Linked DNA regions of Homo sapiens: region 1 is linked to region 2. The links come from fine-mapping of genetic effects on gene expression. A gene starts in region 2. The other region holds a variant in brackets. All regions are shown on one strand. Distances are between the middles of the regions.

Region 1 (14,604 bases), 20 kb before region 2:
GCCGCACCTGCGCCTGGCAGGCGGCCGGCTCTGCCCAGCCCCTACCCACGGCCCCGGCCCCGCACCGGTAGGTGCCCCCTATGCCCGCAGAGAGGCCTTTCCGCCGCCCAGAGAGGTGGCCGCGAGGGGCCGGCAGCTCCGACCGCGGAGGGCGCGGGCGATGGGGACGGTGAGGGGAAGACTGGGCGACCGGACTTGGGGCTGTAGCAGATCCCGCTTCCTCTTTGCTTTCGGTTTCGAGGCTGCTGCCCCGGTTCGAGATCCAGCCGCAGATTAGATAGGTGGTGCGCCCGGGGCTTGGATTCCCTGCGGGGGATGGGCGCACAGGGGGGCGTGTTGGGGAAGGGGGTGCGCGTTGGCAACTTTCCCTGCCTGAAACAAAGGGGTGTCAGGGGGAAGCGAGGGGCAGCGGTAGGTTGACACCTCCTCTTCTTCCGGGCGGAGAGCACCCAGGAGGCCACCTCAGCAGGGTGGAGGGGGGTGACAGTCTGGGTGGAAGCTGGGGAGCCAGGGCTTGGGAGTGGAAACCAAGGACCCTCCTGAATTAGAGGCTGAGGACTTTCCAGAAGGGAAGGGAACGCTGCCAAAATGACCCCGCCGCCTTCTCCCCAGGGTGCATGGAAAAACTGGGTGATGGACCCCACACCTAGGCGCCCTCCACTCCCCAGGTCCGTGTCCTGGGGCCCAGCCCAGCCCCCTGGCTGCCAGCTCTTCACCTGCCCTCCCTGATCTCTGGTCCTCCGTGAGAGATGCCTGGCTGGGATGGGGAGTGTTACAGCCCGGTTCCTGGCAAGGGCAGGGAGACATTGGCCTCTTTCCCAGGTATCTTCCTTTCCCTCTTTCTATGCTCAGTCAGAAACGGACCCCTTTCCCTTCCTTCCCGGGGACTGTCTCTTTTCTTTCCCCAGGGTTTCCCTGGGGGTGTTTGGCTGCCTTAGGTACAGAGCTTGGAGATAGGAGGGCAGAGTGTTCGGGCACTGCTCAAGGCTCTCCCTGGAGGGAAAGAGCAGGACCCCAGGCAGCTTTCTGCTGGTGTAACCTTGGGGGCTCTGCTCACCAATTCTCATGTGTTCTCAGCACCCTAGTAATAAGTGAGCTATTGCTGTGGCTATCAGCCTTGGGTAATTGAGAGGCCTGGGTTTCTCTCTGCTGTACCAGGAAGAGGGATCAAGGGAGGGCCAAGCAACCTGCCTTGGGGGTGGTACAGTGTCTTTCTCTCTAGAAAACAAATGGGCCAGGTTCCAGGTCCCCAGTGCTTGGCCTTATGTCTCCAGGAACAAGGTGCCTTCAGTTCTGAGCTGGCTTACATGTGACCACCAGCTCCTATCCTGTGGCAGGATAGCCCTTTGGGAGCTCAGATTTTTTTCCCTGTTTGGAAGACAGATACATCTGCTTCCCTGTGAGACAGAAGGCACTGGAGGGCCCTAGACTGGTGGAGGACTCTCCCGCCTGCCTGTGTGAATGACCTAATGATACAAGGATACAAGTAGGTTGGGCCAGGGTGGGCCTGTCAGGACACTTTGCTCTAGAGACACTTTGCTCAGGGGTGTGCTGAGATGACACTTAGCCCCCATCAGGGGCTTTGTGTTTGGAGACAGATACAGGCAACTGGGGACACAGCATGGCAGGCGTTGGGTGGGGACAACAGGCTTTTTTAGTGTTGATTTTGGCCACTTATAGGTACAGGAGCAACGGAGGTTCCAGGACCAATAAGGAGTAGCAGGAGAAAACTGAGTCCCCTGAGCTATAGATTTGTGGCCCTGCAATTTGTGGCTAAAGTCAGATGCAGGTACTGCACCAGAGAAGCACAGCTAGGCCCACTTCTATGGACCTTCCCATTCTAACAGGCAGGCAGGATTGATTTCACTCAATTCCCCACTGGAGCGGCTTTATTGGTTTGTCCCAAGCTATTTATTCGGAGCTGAGGATAATGATATGGAGGCCTGACCTCCGAGCCTCCAGTGGTTAGAGGATGGGCTTTTCCGTGGCATGTTCCTCAAATGTACTGACCTTAAGATGGGAAATTGATACTCTCCTAACTTCCTGTTTTGAAGTGATGAGGCATGAATTTTTACATTTATAAAGTGATTTAAGACCCTCAAGTCCTTGAATGAAAGATATTAAATGAGTTAGTGAGCCTTATACTGTGTTTATTTCGGTTGTATCAGATTTACATATTGTTTCTAAAGGGAAAGGTGTCATTTTACAGGAAGGGACCAAATTACAGCTTTTGTGATAGGCAAAGCTCAGTGTTGGTTTTAAAAGTGTAGTTTTTATCAGAAAAGCTCTCGCTGCAGCACTTAGGCAGCAAGCTTTTTTTTCTGCTTACCTCCCAGGATGGCTTGGAGCTCCTTCCTGGTGGGCTTTTTCCTGGTGTACAGTTTCCAGCTAGAATGTTAGTGACTGTCACCTTCCAGTTTCTGAGGAGGGTCTCCGATGATGTTGGGGACTCTGATGTCATAAGGAAAGACCTGGGTAAGGGCAGTAGAGTGAGGCAGCTTGGTCTTATCGGCAACTGTATCAGATCTGGCTGTCCTTGAGGGGAGGGAAGGGATAGCTAACCCTCCCAGAGCCTGGCTGTTTTCAAGTTTGTATGCTTTTACTTTTCTCCTCCCCCATCTCCCTACCTCCCATATACAGACAAGGTGGTCTGGGTGTATTTTTGAATTGCAGGAACATTCCTTTTAAGGCAAGGATAATTTCTGACCTGGCAAAGCCTTAGCTCCCTTTGTGGCAACACCTGGCTAAGGAGGGAATATCAGACAGGATTCTCATGTTCTGAGCTGAGGAATTTCAGCCTCTATTGGCCAGATCTTCTTCTTACTCTACATCACTTCTCAGAAATCAGGCTTTGTATTTGAAAAGTAAAGTGTAAGCTGATTTCTAGGGAAGGGGTAGGAGGGGGGCACTTTTGGTTTGGTTCCCCTTAGGGAAACTGAGTCCCACTGAGAGTTGTCACACTGGCTGTGGTGTGTGAGAATGCATGTGTTGGGGAAATTTTCCTTTCCTGGGATTTAAGAGCATTTAAAATCAAGTACCCGAGTAGATCCATAGGTTATACTTTTCTGCTATAAGATAAAGATGCACTCAGAATTTACGTACCAGAATTTACATCAGTACCAGGGTGTTTGGTTCAAGACGTATATTTGCCTCAGACTTTGAGCTGTGGGATGCCCCATGCTGCTGTGATTCAAGGAAAAGGCAGTGGTTTTCACCCCGACACACACATCCACAGATAGAACTGAGGCTAAGTCAACCATCACATTTCCAAGATGGAAAAGAGGGTTTGCTCCTTTCCCTGTTTTCCCATTCATCAGGCTGCATTTATACCCAGTGTGGCCTTCGGCTCTCCTCCCCTGTGAGGCTATACTTCATGCTCATTTTAACATCAGTTCCCCTATGTATAAATGTAGTGGAGCGGAGGTCACAGAGTGATGCTGGCCCCCTGCTCCTTCAAAGGATGGTTCTGAAAGGCGACTTTCCACCCTCCTCTGATTTTGGTGCTTCCACTTACCTTTGGATCACAATCCAGTCTGGCAATTTGAGGAACAACCAAAGTCATTGACAATTCATGTTTTTGAACATCCAGCTTTTCACCATCCTTTACTCTGCTGGCTTCCCAGTAGGGAGTTTAATATTTTTTTCGGGATTCTCGGCTCCCAGTGTGGCTGGTATTATAGAAGAGACAGCATCTTTGAAATGAGGGCAAACCATCTACACGGACAGGTCTCGGGTCCTCAGATTGCTCCTTCCGGCTGCTCCATCTTCTAGAAGCATGACAGTTTTTTTTGTTTTTTTGTTTTTTTAAATAAGACTTCAGCTGTCAATTAATGTAGGGAGAGCTAATAAATATGAAAAGATGAGGGGAGAGATCACTTTCTGCCATTCCTTTGCTTTCCAAAAGCCCCTCATTCAGAACATACTGGATTATCCACTTCTGACTGCTTTTGCAGTTAGACTTGAATGACGAATGCCATCTAGCTGGCCCATTCATTCATTGTTTCCTTTCAGTTATTAAGAGGCACCCCTGTCACATGAGCTTCTGGAATGATCCGTTTCCATTGGAAAGGTCACTCACCCTGAGTTTTAGTAAGGCCTTGACATCAGCCCTGAGGAGCTAGGGATGCCAGCCAAGGAGATTGAAGGGCCACAAAGAGAGGATTCTTTTCTAGACTTCTGAGGGGTGATTCATGCTTCAAGATAAAATGTGCTTCCTGGGGCTCCATGGTTTCATTGCTTGCACAGTCAGTGGAGGGACAGGCCCTGGTGCAGCGAGAAGCCCACCTTGCTGACAATAACTGCCATTCTTCAGAGCACCGACAGGGACTTGTTTTTAGCCCACTGACAACCCCCATCTCCTTTTTCATTGCTGTCCTTGGCCAAACCCCATTTTAGTCCCTAAGTCCTTAGTATCTCTCTTCCCCTTGTTCCCAATCAAAAAGGCCTGTTCAAAGCCAGGAATAAGGCAGCCAGAGCATTGGTCTTACTTTCATCTACTTTCTTAAAACACACATGGACAAGAAATATCATTACCACTGGGCAACACAAGCAGCGGTTCCAGATTTTTGTCTTGTTTTCTTTTTCTTTTTCTTTTAGTTTGGCATAAGCAATGAGATGACCTTCTTATACTGACCTATAGATGCTATAAAGCTTTCATATAGCCTGCACAGTTTCTAACACATGGTGAGTGCTTATTAAATCACCAGCTGTGGTACTTGGATGTGATCAGATACCCCGATTTCTAGGTCATTGGGCAATGATTCGTCTGTGTGTGAGCTGATGGTTGGCAAAGGCTTCAGGAATCAGGAAATCTGGGATCCCTCCCTGACTCACTCACTTGTGTGACCTTGGACAGCCCATTTCAGCCCTCTGAGACTTAATTCCACAAATAGAGCTTCAGCTGGCTTCAGTGATCATGGCAATAATAATGACAATCACCATTTATTAGGCTAAGCATTTACATATGTTCTTTTCTCATATCAATGAGATAGCTACTATTAATTATCCCCATCTCACAGCTGGAAACACTGAGGCTCTGCAAGATAAAGTGATCACCCATATCATACAGCTAGTAAGTGTCTAAACTGGGATTTGAATTGAGATCTATCTGATTCTTTTTTTTTTTAATAAAAAAATTTTTTTAGAGACGGGTTCTCTCTCTGTTGCTCAGGCTTTAGTGCAGTGGCACAATCATAGCTCACTGCAGCCTTGAACTCCTGGGTTCAAGTGATCCTCCTGCCTCAGCCTCCCTAGGACTACAGGCATGTGCCACCATACCTAGCTACTTTTAAAATTGTTTATATGGAGACAGAGTCTTTATAACTCGCTATGTTGCACAGGCTGGTCTCAAACTCCTGGCCTCAAGCAATCCTCCTGCCTCAGCCTCCCAAAGTGCTGGGATTACAGGGATAAGCCACATCTCCCAGCCAGTCTGAATCTATTGTGTTTTATAAGCTTGGATCAGATAATAGACCAAATGTTGGGGAGAGGGTAAAAGTGGAGGCAGTATAGGTTAACACATAAAAAGGAGAATTGACCAGGTGCGGTGGCTCATGCCTGTAATCCCAGCACTTTAGGAGGCCGAGGTGGGTGGATCACCTGAGGTCAGGAGTTCAAGACCAGCCTGAGCAACATGGTGAAACCCCATCTCTACTAAAAACACAAAAATTAGCTGTGCATGGCGGCTCGTGCCTGTAGTCCCAGCTACTTGGGAGGCTGAGGCAGGAGAATCGCTTGAACCTGGGAGGTGGAGGTTGCAGTGAGCAGAGATCATGCCATTGCACTCCAGCTTGGACAACAAGAGTGAAACTCCGTCTCAAAAAAAAAAAGAGAGAGTTGATGTGGATTAAACACAACTAGTTAAAAGGAGACAGAAGTACAGATTCTTGTTTGAAAAACATCATCTCAATGAATGTTCAGTAAGGAGAGGTCTGTACCCTGCAGTAGGGAAGTAGACCAGATGGCCTGGGAGTTACTGTAAAGGGAACACGCTTTCTGCTTGGCATAGGAATACATCTCATAAACCCCATTTCATTTTGAAACCAAAATTTTCCTCTTGCTTAACGGTCTGTTTGGGCAACATTTTTATTTCTGTTGTCCTACTGCCACTAGTCATAGAAGCTTATCTTTGCAGATTCTTGACCCCAATCCTCATCCTCCAACCTAGTTTCTGGGCCTTTCCCTGCCCATCATTATAATTCA[G/A]CTGTGGAGACCTGATTATGACTCTGGGGTCCCAGCTACACTGAGCAAAGTACAGCAAACATGAGATTATTCTGTTCTTCTGAGAAAATATTTATAGCCACTGATTTCTCCATTCAAAGGTGACCAGCTAGTAGATTGGGATCCATTCTTGTTTGTTCCAAGCAAGTTAATTGTCTTCTGTTTTTTTTTTTTTTTTTTGAGACAAGGTTTTGCTCTGTCACCCAGGCTGGAGTGCAGTGGCACAATCCCAGCTCAATGAAGCCTCTATCCCTCTATCTCCTGGGCTCAAGGGATCCTCTAGCCTCAGCCTTCCAAGTAGCTGGGACTACAGGTGCAGAACTACACCTGGCCTCTTCCACCATTTTGAAGTATTCATGGAAGAGGAATGAGGGTTAAGGTGGTGGTCCAAGGAAGGTGAGCTGACCCCTCTTGGAGAGCTAGCGTGAGGCTGTATGATGGAACAGTGTGCAAGGGGTCAGGAGACTTGGGTTCTCCTCACAGCTCAGTGACTCTGGGCGTGTGATGCAAGTTTTTTGGCTTTTAGTTTTCTTATCATTTGGACAAGATATTCTCTAACCTCTCTTCAGGTAATAATGCTAGATGATCCAGCCTTTCCTGAGAAAGGCTGAGGTTCCAGCCTTTTTCAGGAAATAACTCAGCTGGTCTGGAACTGTCAGAAGTCAGAGTTGGGAGGGAAGAGATGGTGTTGAAGGAGAAAGAAGTCAAACTGGAAGCTAAGGAACAAAGTCAGAGCTGGAGGAAGTCCCTTCTCAAGAAGGGGGACTAGGACCAGTCATTGCTCTTTTTTTTTTTTTTGAGATGGAGTTTAGCTCTTGCTGCCCAGGCTGGAGTGCAATGTGACTTCGGCTCACAGCAAACTCCACCTCCCGGGTTCAAGCAATTCTCCTGCCTCAGCCTCCCGAGTAGCTGGGATTAGAGGCATGCGCCCCCACGTCCGGCTAATTTTGTATTTTTAGTAGAGACAGGGTTTCTCCATGTTGGTCAGGCTGGTCTGGAACTCCCAACCTCAGGTGAACTGCCGGCCTCAGCCTCCCAAAGTGCTGGGACTACAGGCGTGAGCCAACATGCCCAGCCCAGTCATTGCTCTTTTAACCGCTTCAGTGGGGCAGCTGAGAGGTGGTGTCTGTACACCCTTATACTCACCATTCCTATGTCATGGGGAGCAACCTTTATGTCTTGTCTTAAAACTTAAACTGAGCCAGGCAGGGTGGCTCACACCTGTAATCCTAGCACTTTGGGAGATGGAAACAGGAGAATCACTTGCCAGTTCAAGACTAGCCTAGGCAACACAGTGAGACCTTGTCTTTACACAAAATTAGTTGGACATGGTGGCGCATGTCTGTACTCCCAGTTCCTTGGGAGGCTGAGGTGGGAGGATCACTTAAGCCTGGGAGGTCGAGGCTGCAATGAGCTGTGACCACACCACTGCACTCCAGCTTGGACAAAAGACCGAGACCCTGGGGACTCCAGGGTCTGCTTCAGTCCAGGATTCTTCCCCCTATCCCTGCTCCTCTGCCACTTGGGTCTCCAGAACTTGAGGTCTCTGGTTGATGTTTTTTTGTTTTTGTTTTTGTTTATTTTAGAGACAGGATGTTGTTCTGTCACCCAGGCTGGAGTGCAGTGGCATAATCATAGCTCACTGTAGCCTTGAACTCCTGGGTTCAAGCAATCCTCCCACTTCAGCCTCCCAAGTAGCTAGGACTGTAGTTGCACCACCTATATTAGCACCTGGCTAATTTAGCTGGTGCTTTCTGGGCAACTCAGTGTTAGCGAGAGTATAACCCCCTCTGTTGCCCTAACTACCTGAAAGGGCAAGGCTAAACCATATACTCAGCCCAGGAACTCAGGGACCACGTCTTCTTTGTTCATGGAATTGGGCTATGGCTAGGCTATCTTCAGTTCCCTTTGAACAAGGCTTTTTCTTTTTCTTTCTTTCCTTTTTTGTTTTTAGATGGAATCTGGCCCTGTCGCCAGGCTGGAATGCAGTGGCACGATCTCAGCTCACTGCAACCTTTGCCTCCTGTGTTCAAGCCATTCTCCTGCCTCAGCCTCCTGAGTAGCTGGGACTACAGGTGCATGCCACCACCCCCAGCTAAGTTTTGTATTTTTAGTAGAGATGGAGTTTCACCACGTTGGCCAGGATGGTCTCGATCTCTTTACTTCATGATCTGCCTGCCTTGGCCTCCCAAAGTGTTGGGATTACAGGCATGAGCCACCACTCCTGGCCCAAACAAAGCCATTTTCTAAGGACCCTTGGATTCTTTCATTCCTTCTATTTTCATTTCATCATATTCAAGGTTGAGGAGCAAATGAGTTCCCACTGAACCCACCAAACCAATATTTTCCATCCCTACCTGTCTTACATTTTCCTCACCTCTTATTCCCCTATCCCCATTATTTTTATGGGGGGTACCATGCTACTGGGGGGATGAGAGATGATTTCATTTGGTACAAGGACAAACATTTCATTTTAATAGCTATGTTTCTAATGAGTGTAAAGAAACATGACTCATTGGAATGTACTCATCAAGCAACTTAATTTTGCCTCCCACTGTCTCTTTATGTTTATCCAGTGGGATTAGTTCTTTCCCTGGTCTAGGGTGAAAACTTAGGCCCTGTAACTTTTCTGGTTATTCATAGGAGACGGTTCTGTGATCACTTTAAGTCTTACAAGCATAGTCTCAACTAGGTACAAAATACACCCGCTTTATGAAGCAGAGTCCCATGGAAAAAACTAAAAAATAAAATAAAATAAAAATACATCCACTCCTTTGTCACTGGACTGGGAGGGGCAGGAAAGTGCTCACTGGGTACACTCTGCTGGCTTCCAGCTTCCTGGTCCATATTTTTATCGGATTCTCAGAGAACTCTCCTTACCCTCCCAATTGCTGGGATGTCTCACTTCTATTGTCTTGAAAAGAACAAATTATCAGCCAGGTGAGGTGGCTCACACCTGTAATCCCAACACTTTGGGAGGCTGAGATGGACGGATACCCAAGGTCAGGAGTTCGAGACCAGCCTGGCCAACATGGTGGAAACCCTGTCGCTACTAAAAATACAAAAATTAGATAGGCATGGTGGCGGGCGCCTGTAATCCCAGGGAGGCTGATGCAGGAGAATTGCTTGAACCCTGGAGGCAGAGGTTGCAGTGAGCTGAGATCGCACCACTGCATACCAGCCTGGGCAACAGAGCAAGAATCTGTTTAAAAAAAAAAAAAAAGAGCAAATTATCCTCTATTCTAGATCATTGCTCCTTCCTCAGCCCCTGAAATCCAGTGGTTCACCTCTAGCCTCTTTCAGCTAAGGTCCTTCAGTCTGCCCAAGAGACCATCTCAGAGAAGACCTGCTCTGACCTCATGCCAGCCCACATTAGTGCATGTGGCCCACATTAGTTCAAGGAAACAATCACACATCCCTGGGCACAGTGAACCTGGGAAGGCAGGCTGACCCCAGCTCAGCAGTCTCCCTTGGCTCCTCCAACAGCAGATGGCCAACGTGTGTCCCACCCTTTGGATGTCTCAAGAGGTGATCAGATGCCAGTCCACCATGTCCTCCCAGTTGCAGGGGACAGACATCAAGTTTCCTGAGTGGTCCTGGTGAATTCCCCTCTCACCAGCTTGACAGGAGGGCCAGTTTTCTATGGGGACAGGGTGAGATATCACAGCACACTAACAGCAACCCCAAAATTCCTCCACAAAGATTTTTCCCCAGTCTCTGCCCATTCTGACCCTCTATACCCTCAGCTTGAGAGAGGGGCCCTTGCGCACCTCTTTTGAAAATGCGCATCCTTCTTTGGTGTCACACTTACGAGCATTATACCTGTTGCATCTTGGTGCACCTTGGTGTTCATCTGGAAAGTGATGCAGCTACTCATTTGAGTCAATTTGCTGATTAATTCCTATAGCTGCTTTGACTGGATGTTTTAAAACTTTAAAAAATATCCAAACGCACTTGGGAAATCATAAAAGCAACACAGCAATGCACAATAAAGGAATCTAAAGTGTTCTATTGTGTTTTTGTTTTTGTTTTTGTTTTGTTTTGTTTGAGACGGAGTGTCGCTCTTGTTGCCCTGATTGGAGTGCAATGGTGAGATCTCAGCTCACCTGCAACCTCTGCCTCTCAAGTTCAAGAGATTCTCCTGCCTCAGACTCCCGAGTAGCTGGGATTATGGGCACCCGCCACCACGCCCAGATAATTTTTGTATTTTTAGTAGAGACAGGGTTTCACCAAGTTGGCCAGGCTGGTCTTGAACTCCTGACCTCGTGATCCACCCACCTCGGCCTCCCAAAGTGCTGGGATTACAGGTGTGAGCCACCGCACATGGCCTATTGTTTTTTATTTATTTTTTTGATTTAACATCTTGTTATATGTGTATCATCAAAACCATCATTGTCACAATAAGCCCATGATTTTGTGGATATTATTGCTTAGAACAAGGCTACAGTACATATATAACTGAAAAAAAAACTGACTTAAATGAAAAGGTTAGTGACAACAACTGACATTTATTGGTAGCTTATAATGCCAGGTTGCTGTTTGTAGTACAGTAAACATGCTTTCTCACTTAATCCTCATGAGGAACGTACTTATATTTTCTCTATTTTACAAACAAACTGAGCCTGGGCACGGTGGCTCACGCCTGCAACCCCAGCACTTTGGGAGGCTGAGGTAAGCGCATCACTTGAGGTCAGAAGTCCGAGACCAACCTGGCCAACACAGTGAAACCTCATCTCTACTAAAAATACAAAAATTATCTGGGCATGGTGGTGGGCGCCTGTAATCCCAGCTACTCAGGAGGTTGAGGCAGGAGAATCGCTTGAACCCAGGAGGCAGAGGCTGCAGTGAGCCGAGATCGCACGACTGCACTCCAGCCTGGGTGACAGAGCGAGATCCTGTCTCAAAAATAATAAAAATAAAAATTAAAAAATAGGCTGGGCACAGTGGCTCACGCCTGTAATCCCAGCACTTTGGGAAGCTGAGGCAGGCAGATCACGAGGTCAGGAGTTCAAGACCAGCCTGGCCAACATGGTGAAACCCTGTCTCTACTAAAAATACAAAAATTAACCAGGCATGGTGGTGAGCACCTGTAATCCCAGCTACTCGGGAGGCTGAGGCAGGAGAATTGCTTGAACCCAGGAGGTGGAGGTTGCAGTGAGCTGAGATCGCACGACTGTACTCCAGCCTGGGTGACAGAGCTAGACTCTGTCTCAAAAATAAATAAATAAAAAATAAAAATAATTTAAAAAAAGTAAGCTGAGGCAGAGAGGTGAAGCAGCATGTCCAAGTCACATAATTGGTGTCAAAGCTGGGATTTGAATGGAAAGAATCTGACTCCAGAGTGTGGACTTTTAAACTGCTACCCTCTGTCATTTCCCGCAGGGCAGTGGGCAGCCATGCCGAGTCATGAAGGTGGCATGCAGGGATGGGAAATGCTGCCTTAGGAGGTAATTGACGTCCTTTGCCCTGTCATTCAAGCTCTCCATAGCCTTTACACGCTTTTCCAAACGTATCTCCCCAGCGCCCCCAGGAAATCCTTCTATGCCCTTTCCTAGAGCCTAATCCACTTGCACAACTAATCTGGCATACACACGCCCACCCCTGCTTCAGTTGTTCCACTGCCTGAAGGGCACTCACCTGCCTTGCTGCCTACCCAAACTGTAGTCCTTTTAGAAGCCAGAGACCATCTCTGCTGCAAGTTTGTTTAACCAAAACCACTTCTGTTAGGATCTTTTAACTCCTCTTGTCATTTTGTCACCAGGTCACAATTATTATGTGCTTTTATGCAAAGGACAGTGAACAACAGTTGGCAAACACAGATCCTGATCTCTCCGTGCAGCGCCACTATCTGCTTGTTAGCGTGCGGTTATCTGCTTGTCTGCTAACTTACGCAAGGCTCTCAACTTCCCTGAACATTGGTTTCATCTTTAAAGTGTGTGTCCGGATGATATCCCTTCAGTTTTTAATATTCCATGGTTGTTTTGCTTACCATATTGTCTCCACTAATTTTTAAGCTCCCAAAGGCTGGAACTTTGTTTTGTAAATCTTAATACATTTCAGGACCCTGTACAAGGTTTTACACACAGAAAGTATTTAATAAAGTTGGTTGGTTGGCTGCTGGGAAATAAGCCCTGTGGTCACTCTGCTTTGGCCTTGACTGACCTTTAGAAATCACCTTCTGGGGCCCGGCGCGGTGGCTCACGCCTATAATCCCAGCACTTTGGGAGGCCATGGTGGGTGGATCACCTGAGGTCGGGAGTTTGAGACCAGCCTGACCAACATGGAGGAATGCCGTCTCTACTAAAAGTACAAAATTAGCCAGGCGTGGTGGCACATGGCTGTAATCCCAGCTACTCAGGAGGCTAAGGCAGGAGAATTGCTTGAATCTCGGAGGCGGAGGTTGCAGTGAGCTGAGATCATGCCATTGCACTCTAGCCTGGACAACAAAGCAAAACTCAGTCTCAAAAAAAAAAAAAAGAAATCACCTTCTGGGTGATCACCAGCAAGGACTTTGCAGTTCTTTTTTCAGCACAAGTTTATAACAAAAGTTTGGGTCCTATCTGTTGCATTTTTTTCTTTTTTTTTCTTTCTTTTCTTTTTTTTGAGATGGAGTCTCACTCTGTTGCCCAGGCTGGAGTACAATGGCACGATCTCGGCTCACTGCAACCTCCACCTCCCAGGTTCAAGTGATTCTCCTGCCTCAGCCTCCCGAGTAGCTGGGACTACAGGCGCATGCCACCATACCCAGCTAATTTTTGTATTTTTAGTAGACAGGGTTTCTCCATGTTGGTCAGGTTGGTCTCAAACTCCCGACCTCAGGTGATCCACCCACCTTGGCCTCCCAAAGTGTTGGTATTACAAGTGTGAGCCACAGTGCCCAGTCTGTTGCCTTTTTTCTTTAGGAGACCTAACGTCATGCTATTAAGGCCCACAGTCCTTTATCTGCAATTTTGAAATCTGAAGCACTATAAAACCAAAAGATTTTCTTTCACTCAAGTGACAGAAGAATCTGACTTGGTCTAACAGAGGCTCACATTGCACAGTATGAATATTCGTAGATGTCACCATAGAAACGTGAATGTGCTTGATTAGTGGGTGCTGCCCCAGACCCTGCTGTGAGGATTATGTAATTTATGATATGTGCTCTACATTACCTTTTAAAAAATCTTTAGAATTCTGAATTCCAAGGCTCTTAGATAGGGGACTTTGGTGCTATACGACCTTCCTCAACAGAGATGCCTTTGGCACTGGAGCAGGACAGGTCTTTGGGCTCTTCAAACATAACAGAACCTCACCTGGGACCCTGCCTCATTGGCCTGTCCCTAATCTCAGCCCTGGCTCCAATATAACTATAGCCTGTGGCCATGGCTTACCAACTTGATTTTTTAAAATATCATTTATCTTGGCTGGGTGCAGCAGTTCATGCCTGTAATCCCAGCACTTTGGGAGGCTGATGTGGGAGGATCACTTGAGCCCAGGAGGTCGAGGCTGCAGTGACCTATGATCATGCCACTGCACTCCAGCCTGGCCAACAGAGCAAGATCCTGTCTCAAAAATAAATAAATAAAAATAATAAGGTATCGTTTATCTTGATTACTAAATATTTTGGCACTCCCTTAAATTTTGTGTCTGAGCTGAGTGCATGTCTTGTCTCACCCTAGTTCTAGCCTGTGAGACAATCCCTCCGTTTCTCCTAACTCCACTGCCATGACTCTGGGATGAACTGATGTGTCCTCAGGGCAGGGAGTACCTGCTGGAGGTTTGCATTTCGTTCAAGCTAGTTGGGACCTGTTGCCCCTAGGCCAAGTTAGCTCATGCAGAGCAGCTGGCTCCTAGAGGCATTTTCTTTATTATTATTATTATTATTATTATTATTATTATTATTATTAACCCCCAAGTATACCTGGAGGCATTTTCTATACCTGGATGTTTCTTTGGATCCCAAATGAACCTTGTTCTTCTACTTTCATCTGGAAGATGATGCAGCTACTCATTTGAGTCAATTTGCGATTAATTCTTATAGCTGCTTTGACTGGATGTTTTAAAACTTTAAAAAATATCCAGGCCAGGCGCGGTGGCTCATGCCTGTAATCCTAGCACTTTGGAAGGCCGAGGCGGGCGGATCACAAGTTCAGGAGATCGAGACCATCCTGGCTAACACGGTGAAACCCCGTCTCTAGTAAAAATACAAAAAATTAGCCGGGCGTGGTGGCGGGCGCCTGTAGTCTCAGCTACTCGGGAAGCTGAGACAGGAGAATGGCATGAACCTGGGAGGTGGAGGTTGCAGTGAGCCGAGATCGCGCCACTGCACTCCAGCCTGGGGGACAGAGCGAGACTCCATCTCAAAAAAAAAAAAAAAATCCAAATGCACATGGAAAATCATAA
Region 2 (15,319 bases):
CACTCCAGCCTGGGCAACAAGAGTGAAACTCCATCTGAAAAAAAAAAAAATCCAGAAGGCTGTGATTTAACAAATGTAACCTGACTCATTATTATGGGCTGTGGACAAAACAGGTGTCAAAATATCTCCAGGAAATATTAACTACATATACGGATACACTCCAAAGTTTAACCCCGTCTTCTGGCATTAGGATGGATGCCTTCTGCAAGGTTGTTGATCCTGGGAGGAGGAGGTGGGAGTAAATCAATGGAGAAGCAAGAAAAAGGAGGGCCAAATTGGAAGAGGAAATGTTTCCAGGAGGGATTTGGCAGGCGGAAACCCCAGAGCTGGAATTTTTGTGCCCAGTGGAGACCTCTGATGACCAGTGTGGTTCTCCCTGGATTTGCCTCCATGTCTGTTCCTGGGCCCCACCCCCTGTCCTAATAAGAGGGTCCCTGATGTTTTTGCCTCCAAACTTTTTATTTAGAAATAATTTCAAATGTACAGAAAAGTTGCCAGAACAGTACAAAACACTCATATACTCTTTACCCAGATTCACCTGTGATTAACATTTTGCCCCATTTGCTTTATTTAATTTTAAATTTTTATGTAGAGACAAAGTCTCACTATGTTGCCCAGACTGGTCTCAAACTCCTAACTTCAAGCAATCTTCCCACCTCAGCCTCTCAAAGCGCTGGGATTACAGGCCTGAATCACTGCATCTGGCCACTTCTGTTTTTAAAATTTGGTGCTTCTTCTGTAGCCTTGGTTCTTGTCAAATGTTGGGCGAGCCTTCGTTCTGTGTTCCTCTGTTGGATCTTGGGGTCTTCAGGTCACCTCTCTGTGAATGCTGATTCTGTGCACCACAGCCAGCCATCACCGGCTGTGGACAGGAGGGTGGGATGTACCTGCTGAGCACTGACAAGAGCTGGTCTAGGCATCCCCTACCTCTCAACCCGTGTCCAGAGTATAAGCATGGTGTGTGGGGGCGGGGCCGATTGGCCTGGCTGCTCCAGATTCAATAACCACCAATTCAGGGCCCTTCCTGTGCCTGGATTTGCTGGCTGAAACCTTGTAGCCCCCACAGCTGCTTCTCTGATAGAGCACAGAACCCACAGGCACACTGCCTGGCTTCAAATCCTAGCCCTGCCCTTACTAGCACTGTGACCTTGAGAAAGCTGCATAACCTCTTTGGGTCTCATTTCTAAATTCTCTTCTCGGCCTTTCTCAGGCTGGTTTGAGGCTGTCCTAATGAATGTAATGGGTCCTCTTATCCTTTGTCAAAAGGAATGTTAATTATTTTCAGCAGTCTAATTACATGGTTAATGAGAGACTGACTGAGATAACATTCCCTTTAATTACTCTTGCCTAAGTGCTGTTTGGCGCCATATTTTAAGCATTAGCAAGACTGGGTGCTTTCTCAGTAGATGGAGCTGTCCAGTAAGGGGCTGAGTGAAGGGCAGGGGTTGTTGGGCTTAAGGCTTATGGTGGAGGTGCCTGGTGTGGCTGGGGTCAGTGTCCAGCTGAGTGCATGGTGGTCTTTCCTGTGGACTGTTACTTAAGGAAAGGAACAGTACCGATTGGTTCAGATGGAGAGCAGACAGCAACTGTCACAGATTCCCCAGAACAACTCTCATCCTTCAATTAAAAAAAAATTATTTTTAAATAAATAAATAAGTTTATTACATGTGTGAGCCACTGCCCCTGGCCTTACCCTGTCAATTTCAGACTGACATCCTTATAGCTCCAAGTCCAAAACAAAAAAGAAAAGGATGCCTCTTTTGTGGTCTCTGTGGCCATTCCAACAAGAATCTCAGGATTGGCTCTGATTGGAGCATGTATCCATCCCTGAACCAATCACAGAACCAGGGGAATGTGGTGCTGTGATTGGCCAGGCTGGGGCCTGATGCTCACCCCAACAGGCAGGGTATTGACAGCATCCAAAGCACACTGACCCTCAGTGTTGGAAATAAAGCTTGGTGTCGCAAAGTGAAACCAGCACTCAGGCAGAAAAAGTTTTCTCAGCAAGGCAATTTACTCCTGCAGAAGGGTGCGGCCTGTGTCAGTTACGATCACGAGAGCACACTGAACAAAGGAGAGCAGGGGTTTTTATCCCTAACACAGACCCTGTTCCTGTGTCCTCCCTGTGTTGGCTGGGGTTGGACCGCACAATCTAAACTAATTCCGATTGGCTACTGTTGACATCATCAAAGGAGGCAAGGGTGGGCACTTGGCGGGAAAGACAAGTACACAGGTGATGGCATATGCTTGGGCGTGTTTGGGTGCAACAGAGATAGGGAGGGCTGATAGATGGATGGGTAAGATTACTTTCAGAATAGAACAAAGAACAAGGAACTGAAACCTTTGAAGATAAACTGTGCCTAACACCAGCTACTCTGGCCTTGCTGTTTCTCAAACTTGTCTAACTTTCTCCTACTTCAGGGTCTCTTCACTAACTGTCCTCTCTGCCTGGAATGCTTTTCCCAAAGTTCTTTGCACGGCTTCTTCTCATCTTTCTAACCTATGCCCAAATGCTACCTCCTTAACATTTAAGACTCACCTTCCAGCATCGGGTTTCTTTATTTCCCCCACCTGGCCTTCCCCATCTTCATGGCATAATATTAAAACTTATAGTATGTTTAGAGCTGCTTAGTTATTGCTGATCTCCCACCTGCCTGTGAGCTCCAAGGGGGCAGGAACATTGTCTTGTTCACACATGGTACAGTACCTGGCCTTCACTGGGTCTCAGTAAATATTTGTTGACTGCTGGAATATAACACCTTGAATAAATAAACCAGCTACCACAGGACTTCTTGGACTAAGTTCCCTTGTTGTTTAGAAATCTCTAGGTGGCTTGGCTGTACAGGCTGTGAAAAGCGGAGTCCTGTTGTCACACCATAAGAGCGGTCCAGGCTTGTCTTCTGAAAGCCCTGCTGGGCTTCTTTCTGCCTCCCTGGTGAGGCAACAAAGGGGCAGGGTCCCCATCACTTCTGAAGGTGCAGCGTGGCAGGGTAACCTCCAGGACACCCTAAGGACATGGGCAGTAGTGGGAAGAACCCAGATAAAATCCTGGTCACTTTGCCAGTGAGGCTGTGAGGCCACTGCCTCTTTTTTCTGACTGACAGGAGAAGGCTTGCTGGTCTCATGTGCAGAGTATTCTAGGGCCTCTCAGCCGCTGCCTGATGGGATCTGCATAGGGGATTATTGATGAAGGCAAGGTGAGGCAGCTCTTTACAGTAACACATGCCTCACTCTGGGACGGCGGCCAGGCAGCTAATTAGAGAGCCCAGCAGCTGTCCAGCCTTTCAGGCAGCAAGCAGCAGCTACTGATTGCCGGGGGTGGGAATGGGAGGAAATAGACGTGGGACCAGAGACCACCCTCCAAGGCGATGGAGTTGGGTGGTCAGGGTTTGCTCAGTGGGGGACTTTGAGAGGGGCATGTGAGATAGAGTGGGCTAGATGGGGAGGAGGAAGGGGGAGAGGAGAGGGAAAGGACAGGTGGCCTCCAAGTGAGACAGAAGACAGTGGGGTGAGATGTCAGGCAGGTGGGGCAATGCAGCTTCCAAGCTCAGAGCAAGGGGCACAGAGGGGAAGGACAGGGCCCCGTGGGGTTGGGGCCTGGCTCCCATCTCCATGCACCTTCCCCATGCCAGGCAGGCCCCCGCGGCCTGGGCCTCTCCTTGCTTCCTGGGGGAGCTGGACAGACACAGGCTTTCCCCTCAGGGAATCTGGAATACTGATTGCTTTTGTAGTTGAGCTTGGCCCCTCCTTGGTGTAGGAAGTTACCAGATCCATTTGTGCTCAGGGCTTTTCTTACTCTAGGATAAGTAAAAGTGGTTGTTCTGAGTCACGTGAGAAGAACTGGGGGCTTTGAGTAACCAGAGGGCTCCCCAGTGGGCCTTTAGGCATCTTCTCTACTTTGTGGGCACCTGGGTCAGGGTGCGGTGTAATAAGAAATGTATTCGGTCTTTGTCCCGGGTCCCTGTCATAGAGCTCCTAAAACCCTTGAAATTTCCTGAGTGAAAGGAATGTCTTTTGTTATTCATAATAAGCACCTTTGATAACACCTGAGTTTATGCTAATGAAGTTACTGGGGAAGTGGTGGGGTGGTGGAGGGGCTAGACAGCCTCAGGATGGAGCCAGTCTCCAGAAAGACCAAATGCTTAGAGGATTAGAACATTTGGCCTCACCCTCCAACCTCCAAGAAAGGTGTGGGAGGGTGGAGATCAAGCTACATAAAAACTCTTGAATAAGATTTGATAGGTTTCTGGGTGGCTGAACATGTGGCGGTGCTGGTGGGTGACCCCCCAATACGTCACCCTATCCATCTCTGCATCTGGTTGCTCATCTGCACCCTTTGTGATAAATCAGTAAAGGTAAGTGTTTCCCCGGGTTCTGTGAGCCATCCTAGCAAATTAATAGAACCCAAGGAGGCGGTCATGGGAACCCTGGTTTGTAACCAATTGTTCAGAAGTATAGGTGACGATCTACTTGTGACTGGCATCTGAAGTGGGGGCAGTCTTGTGGGACTGAGCCCTCAGAATGTGGGATCTGCTGCTATCTCAGGATAGATAGCATCAGAGTTTAAATGAACTGTAGGAGACCCAGTTGGTGTCTGCTGGAGAAATGTGACCAGATATGGGGGGCATATCTGCCCCCCTCCACGCCCACCCCATATCTGGTCACAGAAGTGTTCTGCTTTGAGTGTGAGAGCAGAAGGAAAAAACTTTTTTTCCTTTACAGGGAGATTTGGGGAGTGTTAAGGAAAAGGAGAGTGGGGGTAAAAAAACAGAGGTAGTATTTGCCTGCATGCTTTCTGGCTCCAGTGTTAGGTTCCAGGCCAAGGAGATGATGAGGGGCCGGGGAGAGAGATCTGATTTTTAGGTTCTGGTCAGAGAAGCAGAGACTCAATCCTGCAAGCCCAGCTTACCTTAAATAGTTATAGGAAAGGAGAGAAAATGGTGCGAAGGGAATTTCCTGCCAGTAGCCTCTTTGGGAAGTGAATCCTATGTGCATGAAAACTGATGTGGCTTTTGAGAGTGCCAGCACATTGTAGAAATAACAGAACAGGAGTTGTTATTCTCTGACCTGAACCTGCGCTTGGCCCCTTGCCCACATAGGAGGCTGCAGTATCTCCCCTGATGCCTGGAACAGTCTGTTCCTGCCCCAGTCTTCCTTGCGTGATGTTGGACATGCCTTCTGTATTGTGCAAACCCAGGCCGCCCACTCTGCCTCTCTTCATTCTCTGGTGGTGCAATGGCTCCTGGAGATGGGAGAAAGGAGAGTGAGCACACTCCTTGCTTCCTTCACCTGCAGAGACAGCCTTGCCTTTAGTAAACCAACATGTATGGCTCATCTGTGATGGTGGCCTATAAATTAGAGAAAAACACAAGACATTGCTATGTTTGATTAGTAACATTGGATGTTTCAGTCGCCCAAGAATTTAAATGCAGCTGGGCCCTTCTCCACCTTGCCTGTCCATCCATCCAGCAGAAATTTTATGATCTCAAGAAATTCATAGCGTGGTGGGGGAAACAGACACATAGACAGAATTTTTTTTTTTTTTTTGAGACGGAGTCTCGCTCTGTCGCCCAGGCTGGAGTGCAGTGGCGTGGTCTCAGATCACTGCAAGCTCTGCCTCCCAGGTTCACGCCATTCTCCTGCCTCAGCCTCCCAAGTAGCTGGGACTACAGGTGCCCACCATCACACCTGGCTAATTTTTTGTGCTTTTAGTAGAGATGGGGTTTCACCATGTTAGCCAGGATGGTCTCGATCTCCTGACCTCGTGATCCGCCCGCCTCGGCCTCCCAATGTGCTGGGATTACAGGCGTGAGCCACCGCGCCCGGCTACATAGAAAGAATTTTAAGATGGGATGACATGTTTCAGTTGAAGGATGGTCAGATCCCCCTGGGAACATCAGTGATGGAATGACCTGGAGGTTGTGGGACGGCATCGCAAAGGAGTGAGGAGGGAGCAGGGTCTGGAAGAAGGAGTCAGAATGGTGGCTGCAGAGGAGGGCAGGAGAGATGACAGTGCTTGAAACAGGCCGGTGGTCTCTGCTTCTTCACGCTCCCAGCAGCGTCTCAGGCATATTGACCAGAAGCTGCATGGACAAACTCAGCTATAAGTTTGCAAAATAAGCAGCTTACTTGGAATGGACTAAGTAGTTTACACTGACTTGAAGACCCTTGCATGCAGACATGTGCCTTAAGGATGAGATTTGGGTGGGAAGCAGTTCGAAGGCACATTGTATGGGGACAGGGTGATTCTGGAGGCTGAGGACTGGGATTTGAATCAAATGTTTGGATTTGGCCAAATCTCTTAATGTCCTGAACCCTCTGTGTTTTCATTTCTAAAATAGAGGTGACCATTTCTGCCCTTCCTGCCCCTCAGGAGCCTGAGAAAATCATGAGAGATGATCTAAGTTCCATCCATATGTTAGTTGCTATAAGGGCTCATCATTCATTCATATGTTCCAAGAAACTCTGGTTCAGGTCCTGCAGTCCTCAAAGGAGCCTCATGTCCCCTGTCCCCTGGGATCTACTCTTGGGGGATAGGGAGTGTCAGTGAGGCCTAGGGACAGCTTATGCACTTGGAGGGAGAGGTGCACCATCATCTCATCCTCCCTGCAACTAAGTTTTTCCTGGGGAAAAAGCCTGCAGACCAGGAAGTGGGAGGTGTCTGGTGGGACACTGCCCTCAAAAGGAGCCTTTCTGAGTGCTGGGGCTTCATCTGCCAGGGCTGCACCTCAGCAGGCAGTGGGCTCCCAGAGCTGGCTGCAGTAACCCGCAGGCTGTGCCGGCAGGATGTGGTCTTTGGTTTCTGTTTCTGTTTTAGTTCTGACTTGTGCCGTGGATGTGGCTGAGGGCCTAGGGTGGGGAGAAGTCTCCACAGGTGGGATTGAACTCCCCAGGCACATGGTCCTTGTGGTGCTGGTGGAGAGAGAGTCCCAGAGGGTTCGGACATGCTCCGTTAAAACCTTTTCCTCAAGGTGATAGGTACGTGTCAAGGTGACCCCTGTCCGCCATCCGGCAGGCTGGAAGAAGCCGGTAAGATGGACAGATCAGGGAGGGTTGGAGGGTCCCGTTTGTGAAGGAGCTGGGGAGGGGGAGGCAAGGCTGAGCACAGCAGCCCACTGTGATGCTCTCAGTGCAGAGGCCCCGGGGGGAGACCCAGGGGGGCACCCCCCAAAACCACACCATACAGTGAGTTTCAGTTCCCCCACTCCTGCCCTTTCACTTCTCCTCGGCTGCCTGGCTGCCTCACAGGTTGTCAGCTTGAGCAAGGGCCCAAGCGGCCTCTACTCAGAGACCCTGGTGGTCAGAGGGGAGTGGGGAAGGTGGACATGGGCATCAGCACAGACCAGCACCTCTGGTCCATCCTGCCTGGTCATCCACAGGGGAGTGCCAGCTCCCACCCCCAGCCACATACTGTTCTCAGCTTCTGAGTGGCTGGGCTGTCCCAGAGGGCCATGCTGGGCCTGAGTGCTGTCCTTGGGCATATGCAGATGGTGTTGTATCCAGGGGGTTTTCAGGGAAGCTTTAGCACTTTCATATTAAAACAAAAAATGTTGGAATCTCCATTAAATAGTCAAGTCTTAGGGATAGTAGTAAAAACATGGCTGTACATGGCTGGCCAGGCACAGTGGCTCACGCCTATAATCCTAGCACTTTGGGAGGCTGAGGTGGGAGGGTTGGCCAAGAGCTTGAGACCAGCCTGGTCAACATAGCAAGACCCGTCTCTACTTGATTTTTTTTTTTAAAGTACATGGCAAAGGGCATTATAAAGTAAGATTTGTATTAGCTTGTAGCTGGTTACTGATGTTCATAGGAAGGGCCTCAACCATAATAATGGTGAAATAATAAAATGAGATGAATAAATATTAGAGAGGTAGAATAGTACGTAGAAAGGTTTAGCACACATTTTGTTTTTCTGCACGAGTGGTTGTTCTCTGCTTTCAAAGTGCTGAAACGAATGTCCTACATTGTCTGCCTTCCATGAGGTTCTGACCGCCCTTGAGAACAGATGTACCCACTACAGGGTGAAGGTGAGAATGTAATTTGAAGCTGAATGAGAATGGAGCTGGATTCTAAAATTATATCCCCTCTCAGATTCACAAGTGTTCACACATTTAGGCAAGAAGCCCTAAGTCCTAACCCTGGACATGTGGATTGTCCAGGACCATCCCAGACTTTTGTGGCTGGATTAATCAGACCTGAGCAAACTGGATGCAAAGAGGAGGGGGTAGGTTCCGGGAAGGGGCCCTGGTGGCCAGGGTGGGATGAGTGTCTGGTGCTGAGCCCAGAGCCCAGGCCCTTGCAATGTTTTTCTTGGATCTGCTGGGGGCAGTTTAAGCTAATAAAAGCCTCCTCTTTTATTCCCAGGGACACATGGAAGCTGCCAGCCCCCCAGCCAAGGATCAGCTGAGCCCTAGGGCTGATGCTTGCCTACGTTGCTGAGAATGGCACTGAGGCCCAGCCAACAAAGGTTAACCCAGGACACTCCTGGACAGTGATCCTGATGTCTGTTGTGAGCTGCACACTCAAGGGTGTGATAAGTGAGTATGTTACAAGCACCCAGGGGATCACCAGCCCAGCGATCCTGCCTGCTCGGCACCTCATCAGCATGGGCACGAGTCTGGAGGTTCTAGTTCTGAGTCTGTTCCCCATCCAAGGTCCTGTCACAGGGCAATGGGAGGGGAATGTCAAGCAATATTGGGCCATCACATGCGGGAGCCGTCTTATGGCCACATGGCCTCTAAAATCCAGGCCAGACCCAGTGTATTAGTTTGTTTTCGTGCTGCTGATAAAGACATACGTAAGAGTGGAAAATGTATACAGAAAAAGAGGGTTAATTCCACGTGTCTGGGGAAGCCTCACAATCATGGTGGAAGGCAAGGGGAAGCAAGTCACATATTACAAGGTTGGTAGCAAGCAGAAAGAGAGCTTGTGCAGGGAAACTCTCCCTTATAAAACCATCAGATCAGCCGGGCACTGTGGCTCACGCCTGTAATCCCAGCACTTTGGGAGGCCGAGGTGGGTGGATCGCAAGGTCAACAGATTGAGACCATCCTGGCCAACATGGTGAAACCCCATCTGTACTAAAAATACAAAAATTAGCTGGGCATTGTGGCATGCACCTGTGGTCCCAGCTATTCAGGAGGCTGAGGCAGGAGAATCGCTTGAACCTGGGAGGCAGAGGTTGCAGTGAGCCAAGATCGTGCCATTGCACCCCAGCCTGGCAACAGAGCAAGACTCTGTCTCAAAACAAAACAAAACAAAAACCCATCAGATCTCATGAGATTTATTCACTATCACAAGAACAGCATGAGAAAGACCTGGCCCCATGATTCAATTACCTCCCACCCAGTTCCTCCCACAACATGGTGGAAATTCAAGATGAGATTTGGGTGAGGACACAGCCAAACCATATCATTCAGATTGTCTGGCGTGAGTGAAGCGAGCACTCACACCTGGGAAACAGCATCTACTTTGGCCGTCAGGCTTCAGATCTGTGCAGTGAGGACCATGCATCACCTGGGACTGGACTCTGCCCAGAAGCCATGAGCAATGCATGTGCTGCTGGTCTAGGAGGCCTGGAGTAGGGCATCCAGGGCCCTGGGAGGTGGGGGGATTTGTGAGCCTTAGCTGCCATAAGAGTGACCACCAGGGGATCTGGAGGAGCATGTCCTCTTGCTTTTGTCACATATCAGCAGCAGCATCTCCTCCTCAGCGAGACAAGCTCGAGGTAGGGTGAGAGGCTCCTAACTGCACAGCCCTGCCTGTCCTCACAGGCCTTTCTTTCCAGCCTCAGCCCCTGGCTTTTCCTTGATGATGCCTTAAAAAATGACAATTGGCTGCTTTCCCAACCCCCAGAGGCCTGTCTGGCCTGAAGGCTGTTATGTCTGTGCAGGGCCCGTAGCCTGGTGGGATCAGAGGCCTGCAGGAAGGAAGCTCCCCAGAAGGCATGGCAGGCAGAGCTGGGCTTTTGCAATCTTGAACAGACAAGCTTTTTTTGGAGTTCCTAGGCTGGTCCATGGGAACCCAGAGCTTCAGATTCCATGCAGGAATTTGCAGGGAGTAGAAAAGGGGTAATCAGGTCTTTTTCCACTTTAGGTAGATCTTGACTCTCCTAGTTGACAGTTTATAATTCAGGGCCAGAATCTGTTTTCCACTCAGCCTGGGCTTACAAAGTCAGTTTGACTGGAGAGTTTCTCAGGAAGTGTGTTCTTGAGTTGATTTGTAGCCAGGGTGGTGTGAGCAAGCCTAGACTGTAGGAGGGGAGTTGGGGGTAAAGAGATGGCCATGGGTGCCTCTGTGGGAACGTCGTTCCTCAGATGGGAGGCACATCTCCCCAGAGCAATTTATGCCATCAGCCTTAAGGCTGTTGTACCGTTTGGTTCAGTGATTCTCCTTCTGGAATTATCCATTAAGATATATTATTAGGAAATAGTACCAGAGAAGAAAAGGGCTGAATTCTTCCATTACAGGCATTAAAGGTAATTCTCGTTATATCATCTGTAGTAGTAGAAATGGGAAACAACTGTTCCCTTTGGACATCTAGGTTAAGTAAATTACAGTTTTCCGCTTGCTGGAATATTACACAGCCATTATAATAATGAGCACAGAGGCTATATAACAACTTGGAAAAACAGTTATGACAAGTAAAAATGGCAGGTTGCAGAATAAGTATATTATGGTGACTTGTAAAATACACACATAGGAAAATATTGCAAAGGAGAAATGGTAATCGCTGTTAGTTCAGAATTATGAGTGCTTTTTCTTTTTTTTTCTTTATTAGAAATGAGGTCTCACTATGTTGCCCAGGCTGGTCTCAAACTCCTGGGCTCAAGCAGTCCTCCCGCCTCAGCCTCCCAAAATGCTGGGATTACAGGTGTGAGCCCCCATGCCCGGCCTATGAATGCTTCTTCTATGATGCATGGATTGGCTTTTTAAAAAATAAAATTGAATCCGGATGACTACACAACATACCATTAATAGTGACTTTCTCTAAGATGTGTGATTACAGGGAACTTTTGCTTTCTATGTCATTCTGTAATGTTTAAATTTCAGCTGTGAGCACATGTTGCTTTTATAATTAGAAAAAAAATTAAATGCTAGAATTAAATGTTTTAGAAGGCTATATTTCTCAAGAAAGGAGGGAAGAGAGACCGAGGCAGCTAGCTGTTTATACCTGCCCTCATCAGTGTTTAAGGGCCTGGGCCTGTTTGGGCCCACTCATCCATCCATTCATTCCACAAGTATTACTAGGTATTATTGCCAGGCACCACTCTAGGCACTGACTAAACAGCAGTGAACAAGACAGTGCCCCTGCTCTCATGAAGTTTTCATTCTAGTTGAGGAGAGACAGACCATAAATAAGTAGCAACATATCAGAAAGTGAAAGTGCTATGTAGAAAATAAAATGGAATGATGTGAGTGACAGAGAGGCTATTTTGGACTGGGGATCAAAAGTCCCTGAGATATGACAGCTCAGCTGAGATCTGAATGGTAACAGCAAGGCAGCCACATACAGGTCTGGGATGCCAGCCTGCCAGTCCCCCGTGCAGGGCATCCTTCGCTTTCTGAGCCCCAGGGACCTCTGTGCCAGAACTGACTCCATCCCCCAAGCCCACTCACCCTGCCCTGCCTCCTGCTGCGGTTTGCTTGGGATCTGAGGCCCCCTGAAATCCTCTGTGTTCGGACCGCTCCTCCTGACATGCTGGCTGTTGCTCCTCTGGGCAGCTGGCCCCTGCTCTTGGCTGGTGTCTCCATGGCAGGGCTGGGCCGGGCCATCTGAGACTCCCAGGAGCACTGGTGTGGGCTGGCAGTCAGGGGGCCTCTGGGTTGTGTGTGTCCTGGTGAGGGGCCTTTGAATGGCGCATGCCTTGGGGCCTGAGGGTTGGTTGCTGTCATGGTCCTGTGACTGTCAGCTTTGACCCTGGAGGGCCTCTGTGTGGATCCCGAGGAACAGGCTGGGAGCCTTTAGGAACTCTGACACCCAGTTGGGAAGTTTGTTAATGAACCACCTAGAAGTTCACAACCTTCTCCTTGCTTCCTGTTGTCTCTCCACATACCATCCCAGCCTTCCAGAAGCAGGAACTCAGAAAATGGTAGTGCCCTCAGAGGAGCCTGCAGTCAGCCTCGGGGGCAGTGCAGTGTGCTGATTAGGAGCAAAGACTCTGGAACCAGATTTGTGGGGTTTGAATCCCAGCCTTGCCTTTTATAGTTATTAGAATGTAGGCTCGGCCAGGTGTGGTGACTCGTGCCTATAATCCCAGCACTTTGGGAGGCCGAGGCAGGCAGATCACTTGAGGTCAGGAGTTCAAGACCAGCCTGGCCAACATGGTGAAACCTCGTCTTTACTAAAAATACAAAAATTAGCTGGGTGTGGTGGCAGGAACCTATAATCCCAGCCTCTTGGGAGGCTGAGGCATGAGAATTGCTTGAACCCGGGCGACAGAGGTTGCAGTGAGCCAAGTTCACACCACTGCACTACAGCCTGGGTGACAAAGTGAGACTCCATCTAAAAAAACAAAAAACAAACAAAAAAAGAACGTAGCCTCTTTCTGCCTCACTTTCCCCATCTGTAAAATGGGCTTGAGAATTTTTTGAGTTAATACATGGAAATACTGAGAAGAGCACCTGGTTATTATTATTACTGTGACTTGGGAGGTGGAGGGAGGACTTCATCAAGGCCTGCAGTATCACTAATCCCAGGGGCTTTCCTTGGGGGGCACCCACAGCAAGAGGGTGGAAGTCTGCAGCATGTGCACCAGCCAGTGGCTACAGGAGTTTCCCTCCACTTGCTTCCCTTCTGGCCCTGGGCAAGCCCTATTTTCCTCCCTGCTAACTTGATGACAACAGGGGAAGTTCAGGGAGGTTTCTGCCCTTTCCTCATTGAAGCCACTTATCTTCAGCACAGAGCCGCCCAAGGGCTCCTGAAGCTGTCCCCCGCTGCGTTGCCTCAGGGGTCTCCTAGAAGGGCTGTGGGTCTCCCCAGAACATGGAACTGTAGTGATGGGGGTGGCTGGGGATGGGGAGTGAAGCTTGGGAAGTGAGTGGAGTGAAAGCGGAAGGCCTTCCCAGCCCGGTTGCATGGGAGGGGAATCCCAATTTTCTGGCCAGATGCTTCTCTGGACAAAAATTCCCAGAGTCACTGTGTTGTGGCACCTTAGCCCCCTGAAACAAGATGGGAGTTTTTGACAAAACCAAGGGCAGTTATTCCATCTGGTTTTGCCTTCAGCCTGTCTTAGACTTTTATGGCAGCCTCTTTACCCCTCTCAACTGCTGGCCATGTCCCCTGCCACCCTGTGGAACAGCAGGCTCGGAGAGCAGCCGGTGAGATGCTCTTAGTGAACAGGGCTCTGAAAGCCAGATCCCCTTCCCCTTCCCCATCACCTGTTCCCTTGAAGGGGTAGTTCCTAGACCTCACAAGTCACCTTGAGTCCTGGCCCTTCGATGGGACTCTGTTTGCCCAGGCCCTTTCATCAGGTATGAGGACTCTCGGATTTGAATGTTGTTCAATGAAACCCTGCTTGTGAAGCTATCCTTTGCTCTCCAAACTCTGTCCTCCTGCATTCAACCTTGCTCACACTCTCCTCCTCTTCAATCCACCCTGAATTTCTGTTCCTGGGCTGTCCTATCTTCATGTCACAGGTCTCAGGACAGTTTTGTTTGTCACCAGGAGAAAGAAGCCAAGGTCCCCTGAGCTGCCGGTTCTCCCTGCAGCAGGCTTTCCCAGGGCTCTGATCCCAGGGCTGAGCAAGGAGCTAGTGGAAGGAGCCTAAGGATATAGGGAGTCGGGTGGGTGGAGGCCGGGGCAGGGAATAGAGGCCTGTCAGGCCCTGTATGGGGTGGGCGAGCCTGTCCTAGCTCAAAGTTAAGCACAGCTCCTGTGCTGATTAGAAATGGGTTTGGAGAGTGGGGTTCTGAAAACGCATCCAAGTCAATGCCCAGCCTCTAATATTATCATCTTCCCCACCACACTGGGAGCTGCCACCTCAGCCAATGACACTGTCTCCTATTCCTTTCTCTTCAACCCCATCTTCTGCCCTGACTCAGGTCTTTCATTTCCCCTGTTGGTCTTGCATGGACCAGCTATGTTCTCCTAGTTCTGCCCTCGGACACTGTCTGACATTGCCGTGGTGTGCTTCCCCTCCATCTACTACCCATGGCTTCCTGCTGCCCAGAAACAGAATCTGGGCTTGGGGCACACCATATTTCTCTCTCCCCCATCTCGCTTTTTTGTTTTTCTTTCTTTCTTTCTTTTTTAAGAGACAGGGTCTTGCTCATTGTCCATGCTGGAGTGCAGTGGCACAATCATAGCTCACTGTAGCCTCAAACTCTTGAACTCAAGGGATCCTCCTGCCTTAGCGTCTGGGACTACAGGCACACCACATCAAACCAGCCTACTTTTTTTTCTTTTTGTAGAGATGGTGGTCTCGCTATGTTGCCCAGGCTGGTCTCGAACTCCTGGCCTCAAGCTATTCTCCCACCTCAGCCTCCAAAAGTGCTGGGACTGCAGGCATGAACTCCATCCTCTCTTCTGTTCAGCAACTTCCTGTCTCTCACCCTAGGTTTCTCTCTCCCTTTGACAGCTACCCCTTTCTTCTTGCTTCTGCTCCAAGGGTTTTGGGATCTGACTCTCCCAAGTTACTTGCTGGGGTTGGGGAAGAGACTGGACCCTCCCGTCTGTTACCAGCTGGGAAACCGGTCTGGGCCATCCCAGAGAGATCAGAGGCAAGAAGAGCAGGGTTTAAAGTCAGCTTCAAGGCTGGGGTCTGGCCTGAGTAATGAGATCCACACAGTCATGTCAGGCTGCTGCAGGAGAGCCCCTGTGAGGTTCCTGTTCCCTCAGCCCGGGCCCTGGGGGTTGGAAGAGCCAGGGGGATACGTGCAGGTCATGGGGCCTGAGTTGGGGTAGGAGGTCCAGAGGTCTCCACATCCCTGTGCTGTGCCATCTGTCTCAGGCCCTCAGACCGCCTCAGTGTGTTCCCCTGGAGCCTGGATCTGTTCTCTCCTGCCCGGGGGTAGGAGGTTAAATGAGGGGGTGAGAGGCTGTGCCCCTTTCATTCCACCATCTTTTCAAGTCTGCCCCTCGGGCTGGCTCTGACACCCTTCCTCTTCCATTCATCCCTCGGTAGCCACAGGGAAGCTGGAGGCTCACCTTCAGTCTCCCGGGATGTCTGTGGGAGTTTTGTTCTCCTGAGGGCCATATGTGGGGTTATTATTGCCACCCGATTTCTTGGCTCGCTAGCTTGGTGCTCAGGGTTGTGATGAAGACCTAACCTGCTTGACAGGAAGGGCTGCCTGGAGGCTGCCGAGAGCAGGGGCACAG

What was found. PIP is the estimated chance that this variant, and not a neighbour inherited with it, causes the effect.
Region 1: its variant is fine-mapped to the expression of TMEM229B in whole blood (TOPMed, PIP 0.97).

The regions. Positions count from the first base shown.
Region 1 is chr14:67,500,549-67,515,152 of GRCh38, reverse strand. It overlaps a transcript of GPHN not described here and a transcript of TMEM229B not described here. Among named protein-coding and RNA genes, the nearest start is that of TMEM229B, 19 kb to the right of the region's middle. RefSeq lists a silencer at 64-193. The variant G/A (reference allele first, on the strand shown) is at 6,202.
Region 2 is chr14:67,480,218-67,495,536 of GRCh38, reverse strand. It overlaps TMEM229B (transmembrane protein 229B), which reads left to right and starts at 6,816. Exons shown (of 3, transcript NM_001348543.2): 1 at 6,816-7,029; 2 at 8,365-8,537. It also overlaps a transcript of GPHN not described here. RefSeq lists enhancers at 3,055-3,594, 3,595-4,135, 6,685-7,104, 6,742-7,241, 7,405-7,474.